2 linked regions of the Homo sapiens genome follow. The protein of the gene in region 1 purifies or fractionates together with the protein of each later gene. This does not show direct contact. Each region holds a gene or a part of one and is shown on either strand. Other genes may lie near its edges. The genes, in order: FTO and AMD1.

Evidence for each region.
Region 2: the proteins of FTO (region 1) and AMD1 purify together in Homo sapiens (affinity purification with western blotting, with the first as the bait; one study listed by BioGRID). This does not show direct contact.

The regions. Positions count from the first base shown.
Region 1 is NC_000016.10:54,113,156-54,116,655, forward strand, and holds part of FTO (alpha-ketoglutarate-dependent dioxygenase FTO), read left to right. Parts: 3' UTR 1-3,500.
Region 2 is NC_000006.12:110,881,053-110,885,075, forward strand, and holds part of AMD1 (S-adenosylmethionine decarboxylase proenzyme), read left to right. Parts: intron 1-4,023.

The sequences.
Region 1 (3,500 bases):
CCTGGATGTAGATGTTTTCCTCTCTCTTGCTGACCCCTCCGCCAGTTTTGTCTTGTGATGCCATTAACACATCTCTCCCTTTCTGACCTGGCTCCTGCCCATTGGTGTCCCAAGAAATCGTGAGAATAGTTAGCCCCCCGTCTCCCCAGCCTGTTGCTTTCTCGTGTAGTTGTTCACAGTAGTTGAGAAGTTGAAGAGCTTTTGCCTATTGAAGGTGCACTGAGAATAAACTCTTTCCTGCCACCAGAATTGCAGTGGTTCACGGCCTGCACTCATTCCCATGAATGCAGTTAATAGCCACAGAAATGTCACATTAAGCAAAGCAGCCAGGGTCTCATCGTGTTGAGACTCGAGTCTCTCAGACCTTGGATTCATTCCCTGGTGTCTTTGAGCCTCAGTTTCCTCATTGGTAAAAGAGAAGTGAAGCAGTGTCTCACAGGGTCATTACAGAGATTAAATGAAATAAATGAAATAACATAGACCAGGAGGGCGTGGTGTTTAAAAGTCACAGATGGGGCACCCTCGGGCCATCCAGCCCAGTGTTTTCTTTAGCCCCTATGATGTTCATTTTTTGTTATATCCCATTAGGTGCCCATATTTAAAAATTGGGAGATTTCACATAAAATTAAAAGGTCTGCATTTTCTTTTTTCTTTTCTTTTTTTTTTTTTTTGAGACACAGTCTCACTCTGTCACCAGGCTAGAGTGCAGTGGCACGATCTCAGCTCACTGCAACCTCTGCCTCCCAGGTTCAAGTAATTCTCCTGCCTCAGCCTCCCAAGTAGCTGGGACTACAGGCACGTGCCACCACGCCCAGCTAATTTTTGTATTTTTAGCAGAGATGGGGTTTCACCACATTGGCCAGGATGGTCTCGATCTCAACCTCGTGATCCACCCACCTCGGTCTCCCAAAGCGCTGGGATTACAGGCGTGAGCCACCGCGCCAAGCCAAGGTCTGCATTTTTCTTTAGAACTCAGAACACCCAATAGTCCTAGGCCCCCATCCTCGCATGGCAGCAAGCTAAATAAGCATCTTCCCACTGCGAGTTGGGGCATGACCCAGCCTATGGTTTGCCATACTCCCTCTTTTTCTCCGTTTTTTCATTAATTGTGAACCTGACCTGCATCACCCTTTCATGTCAGTGCTCTCCAAACCTGCTTGCTTGCACCCCTCTAGTCGAAATATTTTGTGCTTACCCCAATATATGTGTGTGACTATTGAACTCTATTCGTAGACTGCTTGTACTAATGTCATTTGCATCATAAAATATTCATATCCAATAAACATATTAAAAGGATGAGATAAGAAACCGAGAGATTTTGCTGTTTTTTTCCTTTTGCATGGATGAGCCAGCTTCACTGTCCTGGGTGGGGCCCAGGTGGAATTAGTTCTCAAAGTCCTCCAGGTGGAGTCAGGGAATGTGCAACAGGGTTGGAGAAATCACTACTTTAAGTGAATCCGAAAGGTGAGATCACATTTGCTCTAAAGAAATGGTGATCCCAGCACTTTGGGAGGCTGAGGCAGCAGATCACTGGAGGTCAGGAGTTCGAGACCAGCCTGGCCAACACGGTGAAACCCCGTCTCTACTGAAAACACAAAAATTAGCTGGGTGTGGTGGTGTGTGCCTGTAATCCCAGCTACTCGGGAGGCTGAGGCAGGCAAATCGCTTGGCCCGGGAGGCGGAGGTTGCAGTGAGCCGAGATCATGCCACTGCACTCCAGCCTGGGCCACGGAGCGAGAGAAGAAAGAAATGGTGACTTTCATTGATCATGTGTTTGAGGATTTCATGTGCTCTCCAGGGAGGTTTCAGGTGGGTAGAAGGAGGTGGGCAAGACCCAATAAAAAAGCAGCTGGTGCGGGCAATGACAATGAACTCGTATCCTGCAGGGTCAAAGGAAGGCTTGCTTCTGCTGTGAATTGGAGAAGGACTTTCCTGGAAGCACAGGCCCAGAAATCGCACCCTTCTCCCCATGTGTGCGGATAAGGGACCACTTCCATCAGCAGCAGCCCCCTCCTGCTTTCCTGCCAGTCCTCCCTGTGGTCCCAGGTCTCTTGAGAAAAGTGATCTAAGAGATCCCTTTGCAATGAGGTGCTACTGACTGCCCTACCTCCCTCCCTTCCTCCCATGAATGTTTCTTGGTGCTGACCACAGCCTCAGCAATGAGGCAAGCCTGGGGACCCAAGACAGATCTCTGCCTCCCAGGCTAGTGGATGCCCTGGGATATGTAGTCACCAAAATAGGAACTTACCCCATAGTGGGGAAATAGACAGTAAGCAGCAAATCAATAACAAGAGTGTTCCAGATGGTTGTAAGTGCCAGGAAGGGAACCAACTGGGAGAGGGACAAGAGGAGATGGTGACTGACCAAGGGGACCTTGATCAGGCTGTGGGGAAGGGAGGTGGTTGGGAAGAGCTTCCCAGGAAAGGGGACGGCGGGCCCAGGCAGGAGAGCCTTGGGAGGGGGTGCCCAAGGAAGGAAAAGGGCCCTGAGCCTGAAGCCGAGAAGACCAGGAGGGGAGAAGGGGAGATGTAGGGCAGAGCAGACGGGAGCCGCTCGGGTTTTATTCCACACACCCCAGGAAGCATGAGAGGGTTTCAAGCAGCAAGGGCATGGAAGTAACTTGGTGAGATATTTTTATGCATTAGATCATCGCTCTATCTGGATTCCAGAGGGTCTCTGAGAGAGCAAACAGCTTAATCCAAAGGAGCGGCTTTCCAACTGGGAATGTCCCCCTGGCTGGGTGAGATCTCAAGATGGCCTGCGGCCCCTCTAGATTGCCTGCCTACAGAGTTCACTCTAAACAGCCCCTCCCCTCCACACCCCAGCAGATCCATTCCTGACGCCCTCACTGGCAGGCTCCAGCCCCACAGAGCTTTCTAGACATAAAAGAGCAGGGTCATGGCATCATTGGTGACACAATTTTAGTAATAAGCTTCAAAACCCATCACTCCACTGAATCCAGGGATGCCAGAATTGAGAGTCCATAGGACCCGTTTAACGGATCCCACATTCAGTAGACGGTTTTTTGTATGCTTCGAGGGAAGGAAGGTATTTTCAAATGCAACTTCTTTTTTTTTTTTCTTGCTCTAGTTAGGGCTGATTTTACCACTGGGCAAATTGCATACATTTGGATCCATGCCACGCTAAAAACTGTTTATTTTGGAGATCTGTCAGAGGCAAGCACATGGAAGACAAGGGGATTCTGGTTTGAAAAGGCAATTCTCATCCAGACAGATTCAGATGGAGAGGAGCGGTGTGGATTAAAATGCGCCGAAGTGGTAATGCCGTTTATCCCGTTTGCCTTTGTTACTCTGTGATTAAATGGTATTTTTAATTAAGTTTCATTGGGAGCCATAGGTATCGCGGTGGTGAAATCAATTTGACAACCATAAAGGGGAGAGACGGCACAGGCGTGTTGTGATGATTGCGGCTGTAGGGAAAGCCGGGCAGCTTGCAGAGGATGGGTGGGAGGAGGGGAAGCCGGCTAAGAATGACTTCCT
Region 2 (4,023 bases), on another chromosome or scaffold:
AAAATGTGGCATGCCACTAAAGTGTTGTTTTTCAGACATACAATTTGTGTGCTGTTATTAATATAGAACATCTATTTTTCTTTGGGATCATTTATCATGATCTCTGATTATATTTAATATTTTAGTATCTAGTCTTTAAGTGAAATTAGGGTATCTCAACCTCAGCATTCTTGACATTTTGATTCAGATAATTCACTGTTGTCAATGACTATCCTGTTAATTATACCGTGTGTAGCAGTGTCCCTGGCCTCTATCCACTGCATGCTGGCAACACCACCACCACCCCAGTTGTGATAAAAAATGTCTCCAAATGTTGCCACATGTCTTCTGGGTGGCAAAATTACTACAAGTTGAGAACCACTGAGTTAGATCAGAGAGGTGGCATTTAAGATGAGAAAAAGGAATTCAAATCAGGAAATACTCAATCTACATATTTCTTTGTGTTTTATAACCACCTAAGAATTGTGTGCTTCGGGCCAGGCATGGTGGTGCATGCCTGTAATCCCAAATCCCAGCACTTTGGGAGGCCGAGGCGGGTGGATTGCTTGAGGTCAGGAGTTCGAGACCAGCCTGGCCAGCATGGTGAAACACCTTCTCTACTAAAAATACAAAAAAAAAATTAGCCTGACATGGTGGCAGATGCCTGTAATCAGTCCCAACTACTCGGGAGGCTGGGGCAGGAGACTTGCTTGAACCTGGGAGGCGGAGTTTGCAGTGAGCTGATAGCATACCACTGCACTCCAGCCTAGGTGACAGAACAAGACTGCATCTCAAAAAAAAAAAAAATTGTGTGCTTGAATAGCTTTATAATAATTTCTAATGACTAGATCAGTATTACGTGAGCTGTAATGTGAACAAATCCCAAAATCATCTTGCTATCTTGCTTCTCTTGATTCTGCTTTATATCCATCAATTTGATTTATTGACTCTTTAAATAGCAAGGATTGCCAAATAGATCAGTTTTATAAATAGTTTATAATAGACTAGTGCTTCAAAGTCTCAGTTTGTAGTGTACTTGGGAGTGAAGCAGAGACAAGACCACTATCACTACTGAGCCTGATAAAACATTCTAGCTTAATACTATCTTTTCTATTTTTGACACACAGTCTCACTCTGTCGCCCAGGCTGGTGTGCAGTGGCACGATCTTGGCTCACTGCAACCTAATTTTAAAAATGGCTCTGTCGACTGTATAAAGCACTTTGTCTTTTCCATCATTAATTTGATCAGAAAGCAGACCACTGAAAACCTTTCCTCCAAAACAAGAGTCAGCAAACTTTCTGTAAAGGACTAGGGAGTAAATTTTAAATTTTGCAAGGCAGACAGTCTGTTGCAATTACTCAGCTCTGCCCTTATAGGGAGAAAATAACCATAGTCAATGTATAAATGAATGGGTGTGGCTAGGTTCCAGTAGAGCTTTATTTACAAAAGCAGGCCATTTTTTCCCACAGAAATGTGATAGAAATAATTTGTGCTGAAATTTTCAGCTGTTGCAGAGTTTTTCACCTCTTTTATGTACATGTATAGCATTGTATTGACTACTTTTTTCTTTCGTCTATTTTGCCCTCTGATTTATTTTTCTTGAGCTTAGTAGCTCTGGTAAATGCCTTTATCATCACTAGGTTGATAGACAGTTTAACTGTTTGTCCTAGGTTGCTTAAAGTAATTGCTTTCTTTTGATACTATGATTGAAAAATTCTGATTACCGGAGCATTACTATTAGTTGAGGAAAGGTTTGAATGGAGAATTTTATTAACTGATGATGAGTGAGTATAAGAGCATTTTGAAGCCAATGGGTTGGCACGTGCCTATAATCCTAGCACTTTGGGAAGCTGAGATGGGAGGATCTCATTAGCCCAGGAGTTTGAGACCAACCTGGGCAACATAGGGAGACCTCATCTCTACAAAACAATTAAAAATATATTAGTAAGGTGTAGTGATACATGCCCTGTGGTCCCAGCTACTTGGGAGGCTGAGGTGGGAGGATCTCTTTGAGCATGGGAGGCCAAGGCTGCAGTGAGCTGTGATTGTGCCATTGTTCTCCAGCCTGGGTGACAGTGAGACTGGCTCAGAAAACAAAAGGTTATTTCTCTGCCATTACAGAAGAAGCATGCTACACTGTCTTCTCTTATTAAAATGCAATTAATAAACCCTGGACAGAATGCATTGTTGAGCAGCTATCCAAGGACTCTGAGAAGTAAATTTTAGCAGGTGAAATGGAGAAGAAAGCCAGAACTTTAAATTCCACTGAACCAGCAGTGAATTTCCTGTTTTTTTTCCCCTGTGGTATCTCCTCGCTGATTTCTCCTGGGCTTGCCAGAAACCCAGAACTGAAAAGTAGGGGCAGGCAAAAATAGTTCCAAGAAAGGCTCTCTAGTTCTCCTCTGCAAAGAAAGAATGAGAGGCCCCTTTGAATCAGAGTGGAAGAAATCTCTTTTTTGCTTTTGTTTTGTTCTATTCTGCCCCAATCCTCTTGTAGGCCTTTAGCAGCTGTGGCAGTTAGGCAGATGTCTAAAACAACGAGAGAAGGGAATCATTTTTTGTTTGTTGTTTGTTTTTGAGACAGAGTCTTGCTCTGTAGCCAGGGCTGGAGTGCAGTGACACGATCTCGGCTCACTGCAAGCTCCGCCTTCCGGGTTCATGCCATTCTCCCGCCGCAGCCACCCAAGTAGCTGGGACTACAGGTGCCCGCCACCATGCCCAGCTAATTTTTTTTTTTTTTATTTTTAGTAGAGACGGGGTTTCACCTTGTTAGCCAGGATGGTCTTGATCTCCTGACCTTGTGATCCTCCTGCCTCCCAGAGTGCTGGGATTACAGGCGTGAGCCACTGCGCCCGGCCAAAGCCCTATTTTTATAGGTAGTGGATGAAGAAGAGTCCTTCCCCTATCCCCTATGTGAGTCAGGCATTGTCAGAGAGATTATGGAAGGTTGAAGAAAGTAAACCTATAAAGTTTTATATGAACACTCCTTAGCCATTTTGCATGGATCTGACCCTAAACAGCACATCAGAGGCTTTGAAAACTAGAATACACAATAGACTGCCTCTCCAGGGCCAGCCTGGCCATTGGGTGGCAAATAAGTGGGGCAGATGCAAATAACATAGCAAAGGAGTTCATAACAAACCTGACACTGGAACCATAACACAACCTAGAAACATTGAGTAAAAACTTGAAGCCTAAACCAAACCAGATTGTCTGCTGAAAGTTTTTAAAAATCAAGACCTAGAATGATGTAACATGTCAAAATATCCAGGATGCCATCCTAAATTAGTCAACATACTCAAAACCAGGAAAATCTTAACATCTCAAAGGAAAAGACAGCAGACACCAACCTCAAGGTGACATGGACCAAGACTTTAAAGTATCTGTGCTACAAGTTGTAAGGGTGAATACTTTGTTTTAAGAGAGGGTCTTGCTCTGTTACCCTGGCTGGAGTGTAGCGGTGTGATCATGGTTCACTGCACCCTCCATCTCCTGGGCTCAAGCAAACTTCCCACATCAGCCTACCGAGTAGCTGGGACTACAGACCTGCACCACCACTCCCAGCTGCCTTTTTTCTTTTTAAGAGACTGGCTATTGCTATGTTGCCCAGGCTGGTCTTGAACTTCTGGTCTCGTGATCCTTCCTTCTTGGCCTCTGAACCACAGTGCCTGGCCACAACAGCCTTTAAAAAAAGAGAAAACAAAAATAAGAAAGGAAAAGACTGTTACACTGTTTAGTTCAGCCATGGAACGTGTTTAAAAGTCTTAATAGAAATGGTGAATATAACTGAGAAAGGGAGGGTGGGATTTGTTAGTGCGTCCAGTGGGTAAAAAGGAGTATGTGCAAGAATAAGTTATAGTGGGAAGTCAGTAGGTGATGACTTAAGCAGGTAGCATTATTGATGGACCTGAATTAGATAAGCTCTTTAAAAATCTGAAATTGTAATGTTTCTAATACTTAAATCATAGTGGATATTTTTATTTACCTTCATATTCAGGAATGGGAGTCTTAATAGTAGATAATTTTTGCAAGGATTTTGTAAA